Regions from separate parts of the Homo sapiens genome. Here region 1 is linked to region 2. Evidence: fine-mapped expression QTL. Tissue or cell type: pituitary. Region 2 holds a variant in brackets; the other region holds the start of a gene. All regions are shown on one strand. Distances are from middle to middle.

The links. PIP is the estimated chance that this variant, and not a neighbour inherited with it, causes the effect.
Region 1: ZFAND2B starts here. The variant in region 2 is fine-mapped to the expression of ZFAND2B in pituitary (GTEx, PIP 0.98).

Annotation. Positions count from the first base shown.
Region 1 is chr2:219,202,018-219,210,122 of GRCh38, forward strand. It overlaps ZFAND2B (zinc finger AN1-type containing 2B), which reads left to right and starts at 4,765. Exons shown (of 9, transcript NM_138802.3): 1 at 4,765-5,025; 2 at 5,310-5,404; 3 at 5,631-5,762; 4 at 5,870-6,021; 5 at 6,239-6,331; 6 at 6,409-6,469; 7 at 6,555-6,622; 8 at 6,960-7,032; 9 at 7,245-7,631. The coding sequence starts at 4,971. The coding sequence ends at 7,289. ABCB6 (ATP binding cassette subfamily B member 6 (LAN blood group)) reads right to left here. Exons shown (of 19, transcript NM_005689.4): 19 at 7,755-8,029. The coding sequence ends at 7,921. RefSeq lists enhancers at 4,357-4,606, 5,724-6,223 and a silencer at 4,657-5,056.
Region 2 is chr2:218,967,069-218,975,173 of GRCh38, forward strand. No RefSeq gene overlaps it. Among named protein-coding and RNA genes, the nearest start is that of LINC00608, 5.2 kb to the right of the region's middle. The variant A/G (reference allele first, on the strand shown) is at 3,699.

The sequences.
Region 1 (8,105 bases), 230 kb after region 2:
AGGACAAACGGCTGAGCATTGTCACAAAGATTGTGTATCACACACCCAAGGGAGCAAGGCAGAACTCAGGGAAGGCAGTCATGCCAGCCGACTAATCTCCTAGGATCTGAAACCAGCTTCAATCAGCTTCCGCATCCTGGTACTTCACTTAAATATTTAAATACCTTGCACTGATAAGGTGTTTGATTTTTGATAACCCACGGAGAGATTTGGGATTTTCCCCAAACACTCTGAGAAAAATCATCACTTAAGATTCCTTTTTTTGACTTGGGCATGGTGGCTCACACCTGTAATCCTAACACTTTGGGAGGCAGAGGTGGGTGGATCATGAGGTCAGGAGTTCTAGACCAGCCTGGCCAACATGGTGAAACCCCATCTCTACTAAAAATTAGCCGGGTGTGGTGGCGGGCGCCTGTAGTCCCAGCTACTTGGGAGGCTGAGGCAGGAGAGTTGCTTGAACCCAGGAGGCAGAGGTTGCAGTGAGCTGAGATCATGCCACTGCACTCCAGCCTGGGCGACAGAGCGATACTCCATCTCAAAAAAAAAAAAAAAAGATTCCTCTTTTCAGTAGTTAAGGAGGGTCCAAGAGTAGATTTTTGGGAGGCAAATTTGTATGATGGAAAGAACATAGAACTGAAGACAATACAAAAATTTAGGTCCAGATTCTGACTTCGTAGCAAGTAATTTAATCTCTCTCAACTTCAGATTTTTTATCTGCAAAATGGGGATACATGATATCTTTTTCAAAAGATTTTCTTTCTTTTTTTTTTTTTTTTTTTGAGACAGAGTCTCACTCTGTTGCCCAAGCTGGAGTGCAGTGGCACAATCTCGGCTTACTGCAAGCTCCGCCTCCTGGGTTCACGCCATTCTCCTGCTTCAGCCTCCCGAGTAGCTGGGACCACAGGTGCCCGCCACCACGCCCAGCTAATTTTTTGTATTTTTAGTAGAGACAGGGTTTCACCGTGCTAGCCAGGATGGTCTCGATCTCCTGACCTTGTGATCTGCCCGCCTTGGCCTCCCAAAGTGCTGGGATTACAGGCGTGAGCCACCGTGCCCGGCCTACTTCAAAGGATTTTCACAGGGGATTAAATAAGCTAACACATGAGGAAGAGCAGGACACAACAATAAGTGCTAGTTTTTCTTTCCATTTCTTTTTTTTCCTGTTTCTTTATTAATTGAGACATAGTCTCGCTCTGTTGCCACCATGCCTGGCTGATTTTTGTATTTTTAGTAAAGACAGGGTTTCACCATGTTGGCCAGGGTGGTCTTGAACTCCTGGCTTCTGGTGATCTGCCCACCTCAGCCTCCCAAAGTGTTGGGATTATAGGCATGAGCCATCGTGCCTGGCCTTTTCCTTCCATTTCTATATGCACTGTTTCACTAAGAGTCAATTGAGAGGCGGAAAACCACTGAGACAAATACCATTAAACTAATATTCAAGTTGAATTGGAGCCAAGACACCTTTTCTGGCTATCCTCAGTTTGACCTTGTCTGCTTTAGACCTGCTAAAGCTAAAATAACTGGCGTCTGGCTATGACTATGCCTGCGAATTTTAGAGGAACCTATGTCTACTGTCCCAATGAGAGGCTGCAGCTCAGTTACCCACAGCTAAAGCGCAAGGCTGCTTAGCAGGTCTGTGTATGCTTTGTTGGTCTACAATAAAAGAGACTTAAGTAATGCTCAGTTGTTAATTGATATCTCCTAAAATAGCTAATTCAAGTTGCAAAATGTTATTTGATTTCTCTCTCAGTGTTCTCCTGGCTTCTTTTATTCAGGAAGCAAGGAGGCTACATTGGGGAATGGTGACTTTGGTTTGTGCGGGCACTCTTTTTAAATCGTGGGATGAGAACATCACCCAGTGAGAAAGCCCCTGGGCTGGTAATCAGCACAGAGAGCTTAGTCAGGACTATAACCCATCAGTCAGAAAAATATTTGCCTGGGAAGAGAGATACTACCGTGAGAGCTTCATTCACTTTTATCGTGGTCGCTGGGGTCTCTGAGGTAAGTCTGTTATGGCATGATATGGTCTGGATATGTGTCCCCTCCAAATCTCATGTTGAAATGTATTCCCGCCGGGCGCAGTGGCTCATGCCTGTAATTCCAGCACTTTGGGAGGCCGAGGCGGGCGGATCACGAGGTCAGGAGATCGAGACCATCCTGGCTAACACGGTGAAACCCCATCTCTCCTAAAAATACAAAAAATTAGCCGGGCGTGGTGGCATGCGCCTGTAATCCTAGCTACTTGGGAGGCTGAGGCAGGAGAATGGTATGAACCCGGGAGGCGGAGGTTGCAGTGAGCTGAGACTGTGCCACTGCACTCCAGCCTGGGCGACAGAGTGAGATTCTGTCTCAAAAAAGAAAAAAAAAAAAAAAAAAAGAAAAGAAAAAGAAATGTATTCCCAATGTCAGAGGTGGGACCTGGCAGGAGGTGATTGGAACCTGAGAGTGGACCCCTCATGAATGGCTTAGTGCCATCCTCTTGGTGATGAGTGAATTCTCACTCAGTTCACATCAGATCTGGTTTTGAAAAGACTCTGGGACCTCCCTCTTCTCTCTCTTGCTCCCACTCTTGCCATGTGACATGCCTGTTCCCCCTAGGCCTTCTGCAATGATTAGAAGCTTCCTGAGGCCTCACCAGAAGCTGAGCAGATGCTGGCACCATGCTTCCTATGCAGTCTGCAGAACCATGAATAAATTAAACCTCTTTCTTTATAAATCAACCAGCCTCAGATTTTTTTTTTTTTTTAAAGACAGGGTCTCACTTTGTTATCCAGCTGAAGCACAGTGGTACAATCATAGCTCACTGCAACTTCGAGCTCCTAGGCTCAAGCAATCCTCCCACCAAAGCCTCTCGAGTATTTGGGACAACGGGTGGATGCCACCATGCCCAGCTAACTTTTTAAAAATTTTTTTTGTAGAGAGGGAGGTCTTACTATGTTGCCCAGGCTGGTCTCAAACTCCTGGACTCGAGTGACCCTCCCACCTTGGCCTCCGAGGGATGGGATTACAGGCATGAGCCACCATGCCTAGCGAGGTATTTCTGTATAGCAACATAAGAACAAATGACTACATTTGCACTTCAAGCATTCTGGCTCATGCTCAAAAATGAGATCCGAAGATTTTTATTTTTTGAGTTCCACAAGGCTTTGGTTATCTGAGCATTTGTAAAGTGGGAGTGGGGAGAGAGGCAGTGTTTATCTTTGTTTAGTCTGCTCCATACACGTTTCTCCAAACTGAAAGCCTACAATTCTTTCTATTTTTGTAGAGACAGGGTCTCACTATGTTGCCCAGGCTGGAACTCCTAGGCTCAAGCGATCCTCCTGCGTCAGCCTCCCAAAGTGCTGAAATTACAAGCGTCAGCCACCATGCCGGGACTGGAAGCCTACAATTCTAAATTGTACTGATGAATATAGAGAGGAAAAAAAATGAATAAACAAAATTCTTAGAACCAAATGATTATAATGAGACTGGGAAAAAATTATTTGAAATCTGACAGTTATATATTGAAACAAAATAAAAGCATTTATAAAGTCCTGGATGCAATTTAAAATAAAAAGAATATTGGCTGGGAGTGGTGGCTCATGCCTGTAATCCCAGCACTTTGGGAGGCCGAGGCGGGCAGATCACGAGGTCAGGAGTTCGAGACCAGCCTGGGCAACATGGTGAAACGCCGTCTCTAAAAATACAAAAATTAGCTGGACGCAGTGGTGTGCACCTGTAGTCCCAACTACTTGGGAGGCTGAGGCAGGAGAATCGCTTGAACCCGGGAAGCAGAGGTTGCAGTGAGCCGAGATCATGCCACTGCACTCCAGCCTGGGTGACAAGAGTGACACTGTGTCTCAAAAAAAAAAAAATTATATTGGTCAGGTGTGGTGGCTCACGTCTGTAATCCCAGCACTTTGGGAGGCCAAGGCAGGAGGATCACTTAAGGCCAGGAGTTCGAGACCAATCTGGGCAACAAAGAGAGACCCCTCCCCAACCCCATTTCTACAAAATTAAAAATTAGCTGAGCACGGTGGCTTGTGCCTGTAGTCCTGGCTACATTCAATAATTACTAAGAATATTCTAGGCTAGGGTTTTTCAGAGTGTGGTGCATGGCAATCTGTGTCAGAATTCCTTCAGGTGCTTCCTACTGAATTAGAAGCTCCAGGGCCCGGAAATCCGCATTTTAAACTAGCTCCGTAGGCGATTTGGATTCACACTAAAGACTGAGGACCACACTGTTCTAGGCACTGTTAGGTGCTGGGACCTAACACGAAACAAGGTAGACGTGGTTCCTGATTTCCCAGTATGCTCATATAGGGGTTGGTCGCATTAGTGATATGGGTGCTAGAATGGAAGAAGTAAGATCACATAGCAGGTGCGCCTAGTTCAGACTGAGGAGGGATCTGCAGCTCTAGAGACGTCTGTACTTCAGAGAAATACAGGAGCTGTCAGCTCGTGGAGGCGAAGGGCAGCCGTGGCCGTGAACAAAATGGCCAGGAGGAGGGCATCGTGTGTGAAGCGGGCTAAGGACCGAATTGTGAAAGACCCCAAACCACCCAGCCTTCCATCCCCCAAGATATCCGTCTTTGCCTTCGCTGGCCTTCCTCTGCGGAGCTACGCCCGCGCCCAGGGTGGCGGAGCCGCGCATCAACACCCTCTCGCCTCGGGACAGTCTTCCGACTCAGCCTTCTAGAGCAAGGCGAGGCGGGGCGGGGCTCAACCGAGGCCCTCCCCGGCTGCCCGGAGACTGCGCCGGACGCGCCAGCCCTGCGGGATGACGTCAGCGCGCCGCGCGCGCCGAGGGAGGAGCGGGCGCCGGGGGCCGGCTGGCGCGGGGGCTCCGGTAACCCGGGCTGGGCGGGGGAGAGGAAGGGGCGGGGCAGGGAGCCCGCCAGAGTGCGGGGTCGCGGTGCGGACTTCGAGCACGAGCCCTAAAGACGCTCAGCACTCGTCGCTTCTCCTAGCAGACCCTGCCCGGCTTGGCGATGGAGTTTCCGGACCTCGGCGCTCACTGTTCGGAGCCGAGCTGTCAGCGCTTGGGTGAGGGGCGGAGCGCGCGGGGGGCGGGGCCCAGCGGACAGGGACTTTGAACCGCAGGTTGGGAGGGAAGGGTGGGCTCCCAGGCTGGCAATGCCGGGGGGCGGGGCTTGAAGCTGGGGGGGGGTGGTCAGCGGCAGAGGGGGCGTGGCCAAGGAGGTAATGGGCTTGGGAAGGGGCGGTGTGTCGAAAATAGGGTGGCGTTTTCCTTCCCGAGTGGAAGACTTGAGTGAGAGAGAAGGACATCGAGGTCCCGCTGGACCTGCAATCCGACCAACTCTTTGCAGATTTTCTGCCGCTTAAGTGTGATGCCTGCTCAGGCATCTTCTGCGCAGACCATGTGGCCTACGCCCAGCATCACTGTGGATCTGCTTACCAAAAGGTGAGGGGGCGATCCTCAGGGTGAAAGCAGGCAGATGGAGAATGCGTGCAGAATCCCCCAAATCTGTGTCTCACGTTTCTTCTCCCTTTTGTCCTTCTGAGGCTGTCAGTGCTGGGAAACACTGTTTTTTTGCGTGTTTGTGGTGGGTCATATCCAAGTTCTTTCAGGACCAGAGATTTGTTGGACTGGAGTGGGCCACAGACTGACCCTTGCTCCTTGACTACAGGATATCCAGGTACCTGTGTGCCCTCTCTGTAATGTGCCTGTGCCTGTGGCCAGAGGGGAGCCCCCTGACCGTGCTGTGGGAGAGCACATTGACAGAGACTGTCGCTCTGATCCAGCACAGCAAAAACGTAAGGTAAACATTGTAGGGGTCAGCCACAACCCAGCTGGGACTACGGATGCCTGGAAACCCAAACAGCTAATCAGAGTCTCAGCAGAGACAACCTTCTCACTTCACCTCAGATCTTCACCAATAAGTGTGAACGCGCTGGCTGCCGGCAGCGAGAAATGATGAAACTGACCTGTGAACGCTGTAGCCGAAACTTCTGCATCAAGCACCGGCATCCACTGGACCATGATTGCTCTGGGGAGGGGCACCCAACCAGCCGGGCAGGGTAATGGCAGCCAAGTCCTCCACTTGCTTTTGGGAAGCATTCTTTTGGAACTGACTCAAGCTCTGTTGTTATAAATTGGGGAGCTTCAACCCTACCCTGTCGGCTAGGGGAGTCTTTTAGCTTCCTTTTCAAGTGCATGTTTTTCCAGAACTCCCCTCCTGACTTCCTGGGTAAGGCTAGTTCTTGGAGACATGCCAAAAATCTCTCTTCCCTACAGACTTGCTGCCATCTCCAGAGCACAAGCTGTGGCTTCTACAAGCACTGTCCCCAGCCCAAGTCAAACCATGCCTTCCTGTACCTCTCCCAGCAGGTAGGCCTGCCCGTTTCCCTGCTCCCCCTTTTTCCCCTTCACACCTCTGACCTCCACCTCTTCAATGTCTGTCGTAGAGCCACAACCCGATCTCCGTCCTGGACAGCCCCTCCAGTGATTGCTTTGCAGAATGGCCTGGTGAGTTGGGCAGAGGTTGGATGGACAGAAACAAACACACAGAGAGTGAAGTCCAAGGACGCTGGTCTTCTTTCTCCCTTTGTAGAGTGAGGATGAAGCTCTGCAGCGGGCCCTGGAAATGTCCCTGGCAGAAACCAAACCCCAGGTTCCAAGGTACCTTACCCTCTTGTGAAAGAGAGCGCAAGCTGTGGGCAAGGGCTTGGTCTGGAGGCAGGTAGGTGGGACCACTCTGACACAATGCAAGATAATCGCTGGCAACTTGGTCTCAAAATTAAGATGAACTATATGATCTTTGACAAGTTATTTAACCCATGGAGCCTTCATTTCCTCTATAAAACGGGGACAATACTAATACCCACCTTGTAGTGTTGCTATGAAGATTGAGATAATCCTCAGCAGTGCTCAGCACCATGAGGCCCAACACACACAGATCAGATGTTCAAATTTCAGATCTTACCATCATCCAACTTAAACTGTTTCTCCCTCCCAGTTGTCAGGAGGAAGAAGACCTAGCTTTAGCACAAGCACTGTCAGCCAGTGAGGCAGAATACCAGCGGCAGCAGGTATGAGGCTGGGCTGAAGATATATGCTGCAGTGGAAGGGAGGAAGAAGTCAGGGATGGGGGTTCTTCCTAGTGGTGCAGAGTTTTGGAATGGTGGTTATCGTCTGGTTTTCAGTATGACTCCAGCCCATGCTGAGCTCTGAAATGAGGGCTGTCCCTCATTTCCTTGACGTTGCACTGTGTCTTCCCCTCCTTCCCCTCTCTTTGCTCTAGGCCCAGAGCCGCAGCTCGAAGCCGTCCAACTGCAGCCTGTGCTAGGGCCCTGGGCTTGGGGAGGGAGGTTCACCTGAGGAGGACTGTGGCCCTCACACCTCTAGGGTACACAGGGAGAGGAGGCCCGGAGCACCCTGGAGGGCAGAGACAAGCGGGAGTGATGTGGAGGTCGCCCTGGGAGCCTCTGGAAGGCCTTGCTAGTGCTCCAGCTGCATGGAAGAGAGCGGCTAGCAACTGTTCCCTGGTTGGGCCCTCAGTGGATGCTGGCCAGGCCCTACTCTTAGCCCCTTCATCATGTCATCTCCCTTATGCTGGAGCTGCCCCGATGTGGAGTGGGCAGGAAGGGGCCTGGAAAAAATAAAGGATCTTGGCAGTTGATAAAACGTACAAGTGGTGTGTTTCTCTCTCCTCTCTAACCTCAAACAGGAAAGCCGTGTCAAGAATGCTCATCTGACTTATGGGTAGAGGCCCGCTGCAGTACCCCATCCCACAAAGCCACAGTGATCCTCGCACAGTCCACATTTTTATTTCCCCAAAAGATGTTTTTCGGAAAGGTCCCTTTCCCTTACCATAGCTAGCACCATACCCCAAGACCAGGATGAAATAAGCCAGGGAAAGGAGACACATCTTATTCCCTTCTGGGTTAGTCTTTGAGAGGGAAGTGGCCAAACTTTTGTCACCGTTCCATGGTCTGAGGCTTAGTGTCTTCAGAGGTTTCTTCCTGTCCCTGCTGCAGCTGCCACATGTCAGCATACACCCCACCTCGGGACAACAGAGCCTCGTGTCTGGGGTGAGGAGAAAAGTGTGAGTCCTAACCATTAGTTTTACCCCGAGGGTCCTTGCCACCAGCCCACAGAGAGG
Region 2 (8,105 bases):
AATTGTGATAAAGTGATATTCACTGGGATATTATGGACCATTAAAAATTATACATCAGGCCGGGCGTGGTGGCTCAAGCCTGTAATCCCAGCACTTTGGGAGGCCGAGGCAGGCGGATCACGAGGTCAGGAGATCAAGATCATCCTGGCCAACATGGTGAAACCCCATCTCTACTAAAATACAAAAAATTAGCCGGGAGTGGTGGTGCGTGCCTGTAGTCCCAGCTACTCGGGAGGCTGAGGCAGAGGAGTCGCTTGAACTTGGAAAGCGGAGGTTGCAGTGAGCCGAGATCACACCACTGCACTCCAGCCTGGCCACAGAGCAAGACTCCGTCTCAAAAAAAAAAAAAATTGTACATCAGTCTGGACACGGTGGCTCACACCTGCAATCCCAGCACTTTGGGAAGCCGAGGCAGGTGTATCACCTGAGCTCAGGAGTTTGAGACGAGCCTCATGGTGAAACTTCGTCTCTACTAAAAATACAAAAATTAGTTGAGCATGGTGGCTGTGCCTGTAGTCCCAGCTACTGGGGGGCTGAGGAGGGAGGATCACTTGAGCCCGGGAAGTGAAGGTTGCAGTGAGCTAAGATTGAGCCACACTACACTCCAGCCTGGGCAGCAGAGTGAGACTGTCTCAAAAAAAAAATTGTACATCAATATATATTTATCAACATGACAAAAATGGCACGATGAAATGGAAATAGGAGATTGAAAACATTGTCATATCATCCCATTTCTGAGAGAGAGAGAGATTTAAACAGCTGTCTCCTTCTTGTTATTTAGATCTCGACTTAATAGACTCCTCCTTCTCATCATCATCTCCTGAATTAATCTCAATCTGTCCCACAGTTACCCTCAATCACATGCCCCTAATTTATTTTCTTCATAGCATTTATCTTCCTGAAAATATATTATTATGACCTAAAAAAGAAGAGAATTATAAGGAAAGAAAGAAAAAGAGAAAAATAGAGAGGGAGCAAGAGAGAGAGAGAGAAAGAGAGAGAGAAGGAAGAGGGAAAGAGAAAGAGATAAGGAAGGAGGAACAGGAAAAAAAGTGACACTGGACAGTGTCTGGAAAAGGAGAAACACATTTCTGCAGCCATGTCCCCCACTCCCCTCTCACACATCTCCAAAGTCCCTTTGCTCCTTCCCCCAACCCCAAGCTGTTTCCAAATCCCTAGGGTTTAACAATGTCCCTTGCTGGATAAGGGGAGTTAAGCTCCTGTCCAGCCTGGCAGCCATGTCTATTACACACAAAGCACATATAAGGTGCATGCCCACACACAGAGCATGGACACACATATGTGCACACTCTTACAAGGATCCATCCAAGAGCATTTAAAAAGCACTTCTCTATCTTTTTCATAAGTGCCATAGAAGATCCACTGTCCTTTATTCAAATAATAAAGCTAGGGGAAATTTTTCTCTTCACATTAACTTGTTCATATCCTTTGAATAATGAGAATTAGCACAGTGCCTGGCATGAGGTAGGCTCTCAATAAATAAGAGCTGATGTTTATTCAGGTAATAGCCATTTTTTTATTATGATAAATGTTATGATAAGCATTTGTGTGTCACGTCTTTGCCCACTTACCTCCTTAGAACAAAGAATAAAAGAATAAATGGACTAAAAGGTGTGACAGTCTGCATGTTTACCTTTGGTTGCCAATAAGCATGCCACCAAATACACATTTTTAGAACACACCTATGGTAACTAACTTCTCCTAGATGTTTTATCTTTTCTTTTCTTTTTTTTTTTTTTTGAGATGGAGTCTCGCTCTGTCGCCCAGGCTGGAGTGCAGTAGCGCGATCTCGGCTTACTGCAAGCTCCGCCTCCTGGGTTCACACCATTCTCCTGCCTCAGCCTCCCGAGTAGCTGGGACTACAGGCGCCCGCCACCATGCCCGGCTAATTTTTTGTATTTTTTAGTAGAGACAGGGTTTCACCGTGTTAGCCAGGATGGTCTCAAACTCCTGACCTCAGGTGATCTGCCTGCCTCAGCCTCCCAAAATGCTGGGATTACAGGTGTGAGCCACCTCTCCCGGCCTCTCTTCTCTTTTCAATTGTTCTTGATTTGTGCTAGGTTTTTGGTTGGCTTTACTTTGCATTTTAAAACACTTTGAATTTTATCCTGGTGCTTTTATAGTGTCTTCATTTCATTCTTTAATCTATTTTGGAATTCAACTTTGTATGTGGCGAGAGGTAGAGATATAATTATTTTCCCCAAATGACTACTAAGTTGTGCCAATCGTTGAACAGTCTTCCTTTACCCCCAGTAAATACCATCTTATTATTTATGAAATTCCCACACATATGAATCTATTTCGAGGCTTTACTCTGTTCCATTAATCTGCTTAACTACTGCTGTTTCAAACCACTTCTTTAATAACTAGTTTTGCAGCATGCTCATTATTCTTTTGCTAAAATTGTCTTGTCTTTTTTTTTTTTTTTTTTTTTGAGATGGAGTCTCACTTTGTCACCCAGGCTGGAGTGCAGTGATGCAATCTTGGCTCACTGCAACTTCCACCTCCCGGGTACAAGTGATTGTCCTGCCTCAGCCTCCCGAGTACTGGAACTACAGGCATGCACCACTGTGCCTAGTTAATTTTTGTATTTTTAGTAAAGACAGGGTTTCACCATGTAGGCCAGTCTGGTCTCGAACTCCTGACCTCAAATGATCCACCCACCTCAGCCTCCCAAAAGCTGGGATTACAGGCATGAGCCACAGTACCTGGTCGTGTCTTGTCTATTCTTAATCACAGTACAGAAGAACTTGAGAACCAAGCCTGTCAATTTCCATAAAATCCCTTTGTGACTTGAATTGGGACTGCATCACTTTTATAGATCAATTTGGAGATATGTCAATTTTGCAATATTGAGTCATTCCACCCAGGAACGTGCTCAGTCTCTTCATTTACTCAGGTCTTCTTACTTCAGTTCCTTAGTGAATATTTATAGCTTTCTTTATTTAGATGTTTCTCATGTTTTCATTAGGTTGATCTGGGAGCATATTTGTATTGCTGTTGTAAGCTTGCAATTCTCAATTCCTTTTCTTCTTTTTACAGGGTTATAGGGGAGCCGTATTTTTTTTTTTTTTTTTTGGTATGTTGATCTTATACCTTACTGGAATTTTATTAGTTCTAACCGTGTTCTAGTTGAATCTCTTGGATTTTATAGGTAGGCAGTCATATCATCTGTAAACAAGGAAATTTTAGTATCTTCCCTCTCAATATTTACACACAGTGTATATCTTTTCCTGTCTTGTTGCATTGTCTAGGCTCTCCAGTACAGTGTTCAGTGGTAGTAGTGATGACAAAATTAAAAGGGATAAAAAAGACATCTTTCCTTTTCCCTTTTATAAGAATACTTCTCATATTTTACCAATGGCTTTTTAAATTTGTCTTTTAAATTTGAATATCTTCTTTTATGTACATTTTAATATGGTAAGTCATGTAAAATCATTTTCTGGAAGTTGATACAATTTTAATCAAAATAATTATTCAAATTACCTGTCCTGTATAGAGCACCAACGGAGCCATGCTGGACTACATGGTCCTGAGCATGTGCAGTTTGGGGATATAGGAGTGGGAGGTGGCTGAATGTTCCCCTGGGGGTCCTTTCTCCTCCCTGACATTTAAAGTTAGTGTGATGTGATGCACGGAACAAAAGACTATGAGTCAGAGGTTTGAGTCTCTCCTCT[A/G]CCATATATTAGCTACTAATCGAAGACAGCAATTCAATCTCTTTGAATTTCAGTTTTCTCATCTATCAGATCGGAATAAGATCTTGGGTTAGTGTCTATCAGGTGCCTATGATAGGAATGACATATTACTGTTGTTAGGGTAAGAACTATTGCTATAGTAGTCAGCACTATTAATAACTATTAACAGGGACTAAACAATGACCAGGACAGGGACAGAGTCCAGAATGGGGCCCTGGGGTGCTCTAACCAGCTTTGCTGGCCCCTGAGATAGTGGGGAGCCCTGAAGGCCTGGGCCTCCCATGAGCTATCCTGTGACCTGGATGACTGTGTTTACTCCTTGCTGCCAGGCCTTGGTCCCAGTGTGACCCACGTGCCTCTCTTTAGAATGCCAGCCAGAGGACTTGCTTCTGCTGTCAGTATGTAGATACTTTTGCCAGCCTGGCCTAACATAGCAACATTCTTGAGTCTAGGTCTTTGGGCCAGCAGGCCAGGCCCCTTTTGGGACTTCCCACTCCAGGGATCCCCCCAGGCTGGTTGGAACCAACAGGGAAGAACAGCTGAGTCCTTCCTTCACAATTCCCCTGCTGATCAGGGGTGAGAGGAGATGCATCTTGGGACACTAGGCCCTAAGAATGGCATGCACACACGTTGCTAATGACTGCACTAATGTCCATGCATCAGGGTATAGTAGAACTATCCTGAGATTTGCAGCAAATCTGGACTCTGCTATTTCCTCACTGTGGGAACTTGGGACTTTGTTTTCCTCATCTGTTATATAGGAATCATGATCATCTTCCCACTACATATATATATATATATATAATATTGATATATTTTATATATAGAATATTGATATATTATATATAGAATATTGATATATTATATATAGAATATTGATATATTATATATAGAATATTGATATATATTATTATATACAATAATGTATGACGTTAATATGTTATATACAATAATGTATGACGTTAATATGTTATATACAATAATGTATGACGTTAATATGTTATATACAATAATGTATGACGTTAATATGTTATATACAATAATGTATGACGTTAATATGTTATATACAATAATGTATGACGTTAATATGTTATATACAATAATGTATGACGTTAATATGTTATATACAATAATGTATGACGTTAATATGTTATATACAATAATGTATGACGTTAATATGTTATATACAATAATGTATGACGGTAATATGTTATATACAATAATGTATGACGTTAATGTTATATACAATAATGTATGACGTTAATATGTTATATACAATAATGTATGATGTTAATATGTTATATACAATAATGTATGTTAATATGTTATATACAATAATGTATAATGTTAATATGTTATATACAATAATGTATAATGTTAATATGTTATATACAATAATGTATAATATTAATATGTTATATATAATAATGTATAATATATAAGAATATATATTATATATATTTTTTGAGATGGAGTCTTGCTCTGTTATTCAGGCTGGAGTGCAGTGGCATGATCTGGGCTCACTGCAACCTCCGCCTCCCGGGTTCAAGCGATTCCCCTGCCTCAGCCTCCCAAGTAACTGGAATTACAGGCACCCGCCACCATGCCCAGCTAATTTTTGTATTTTTAGTAGAGACAGGGTTTCGCCATGTTGGCCAGGCTAGTCTCGAACTTCTGACCTCAGGTTATCTGCCCACCTTGGTCCCCCAAAGTGCTGGGATTATAGGCATGAGCCATATGCCTTGCCTTTTCCCATGATTAATGAGGCTGCTGCAAGTATCATTTGAAATTGTGTCTATGATGTGATCTGTAAGTTGTAAAGCATATAATAAATACAAGGTGGTCCTGAGTCTGGCCCTCATGTTCATGGTCATAGACATGGCCATTGCACAAATGTGTGTGCAAGATGCCCTAGAACTGTGTGTCAAAAGTAGAAAACCAGGGGGAAAGGTTGGGGGATTGGGAAGGTGATCATAGGAAAGGAGGCTGACTCCAAGAGGTTATCATCGGAGCCTGGGATCTTTTGTCACTTTTCCCATCCATCTCCCTATCTTGTGTTGCTCCAGATCTCTCCATACTGCAGGATAAAAACGGACAGTGCTGCCTGAAGCCTCCCTGACAACCTCCTGCTGTGTTGCTAAGCAACTTGACCTCCTCTTCCAAAAAAGGAACCTAATGCTCAAGGTCTGGCCTTCCAGCCTCCTTTAGTTACTTCCTTCTTCTCTGACCTCAAGGAAGGAAGGAATCTCAAGGAAAGAGCATCTCTGCCTCATGGAGGGAGAACTGGGTGTAGAATTGGAGGATTAGACTGGTGGGAAATGGGATGAACTTGCAAGGCGGGTCTTTGCTTCTGGGCTGATCAGTGTGGGGGATGACAGTTATAGAGCAGCTTTCTGTGCTGGACTCTCTAGGCACAGGCTCTGTCCTTGCAGCAAACCAACAAGGCAGGTATGATCAGTGTTGCCATTTTATGAGGTCACTGAGCCTCACAGAGAGTAAGCAGCCTTCTCAGTCTCACAGGGAATAGGCAGTGGATGAGTCTGAAGCCACGCCCTTCTGGGTTCCTTCTACTCCACCATGCTGTTCGAGATATTTGCAAGGGTCACTGTAGACCACAAGACTTCTAAAATGCATTTCTCACTTTGCTATTTGTCTGGAACCCCTGGTGAATGCTGGAATAGAGCACCTGGCTTGAGGTTGAGCTGGGGTTTGGGCATATAGTTCTGCTACTTCCTTGGCCTCTCAGAATCTCAGAATCTGCTCATTCTTCCAGTAGTGAAGATCAGAGAATAAGGGGTGGGGATAGAGTGAAAACTGGGCTGGCCGGGCTTGAAATGCATCTCTACCACTTGGCAGCTCTGCGATCCCATGCAAGTTATTTAACATTTTGTGCCTCAGTTTTCCTAATTTATAGAATGGGAATAACACTAGAGCCAACTCCAGAGGGTTGTAAGAATTAAATGAATGTAAAGCTCTTTGAATAGTGCCTGGCACATAAAGGTTCAATAAGTATCAGCCCTTATTATTATTACTTCTAGGAGGCTTGAGCATATAAACCTCTTTCACATCCTTAGTGGTTAAGAGAATTCACTGCCACTGAAATCAAACTAGGTCCGCATCCTGCACTGCCCTTTCTCACTGTGTGACTTTAGACGAGTTTCTTAATCCCTCTGTGGCTCAGTTTTCTAATCTATAAAGTGAAGAAAATAATAATGTGTACTTCAGGGTATTATTGTAAAGATCAAATATAATATGGGTATCAGTTATGGTAATGTTAGTTGCTGTAACAAGAAAACTTCCCACTTCCAAATTTCATGTAATAGTCTACATAGAATCATGGGAAGTAAGCATTACTATTATCTACATTTTAGAGGAGAAAACTAAGTGTCAGAATGGTGTAGACATATTCCTAAAGTCACATAGCTAGTAGCTAGCTGAGATCTTACAATTTGAAATTCAATACATTCTTTTGTTACTTCATAAAGAAACGGAGGATGTTCTGAGTATAGGAGGCCAACTCATGTGATAGTGGTTGCGGAGCCATAGCCAGTCAAGAGGCTTGTTCTTGGTGAAGTTCACCATGTGGGCCCAGGACAAGGACTGGGCTGGCGTGGAAAAGTAAGCCCAGGTTCCTTTCCAGGGCATGTGGAGGGCATCTGATGGGGATGAGAGGGAGAGGAGGCAGGTGCTTGCTTTGTTTTGGATTGTTTTGTCTGCTTGTTTAATAGAAAGCACTGATATATGTAGCAAGGTACTTAAATCGTTATTTAATCTTTATAGCAACTCTATGAGGTAGGTTAAATGGATATTATCATTTTACAGATGAGGTAATTGAAGCACAAAGAAGTAAAGTAACTTGAATAACGTCACATAGCTTGCAAGTGTCAGAGCTTTTAAACCCTGGAAGTCCAGCCCAAACCTCCAAACCACTAAGCTATGTTGTCTTTTGTTTTCAAAGAAGGGTATGCTAGGAAAGAAACAGCAAACAGGATCCAGTGGGAGAGAATTCTCAGAAACAGAAAAAGTTAGCTGGGGCCAGGCACAGTGGCTCATGCCTGTAATCCCAGCAATTTGGGAGGTCAAGGTGGGAGGATCATTTGAGTTCAGGAGTTCAAGACAAGCCTGGCCGACATGGTGAAAACCCATCTCTACTAAAAATACAAAAATTAGCTGGGCGTGGTGATGGGTGCCTGTAATCCCAGCTACATGGGAGGCTGAGGCAGGAGAATCACTTGAACCCAGGAGGTGGAAGTTGCTGAGAGCCAAGATTGCACTAGCCTGGACGACAGAGCAAGGCTCTGTCTCAAAAAAAAAAAAAAAAGAAAGAAAGAAAGAAATATTCATCCAGGCACAGTGTCTCATGCCTGTAATCCAAGCACTTTGGGAGGC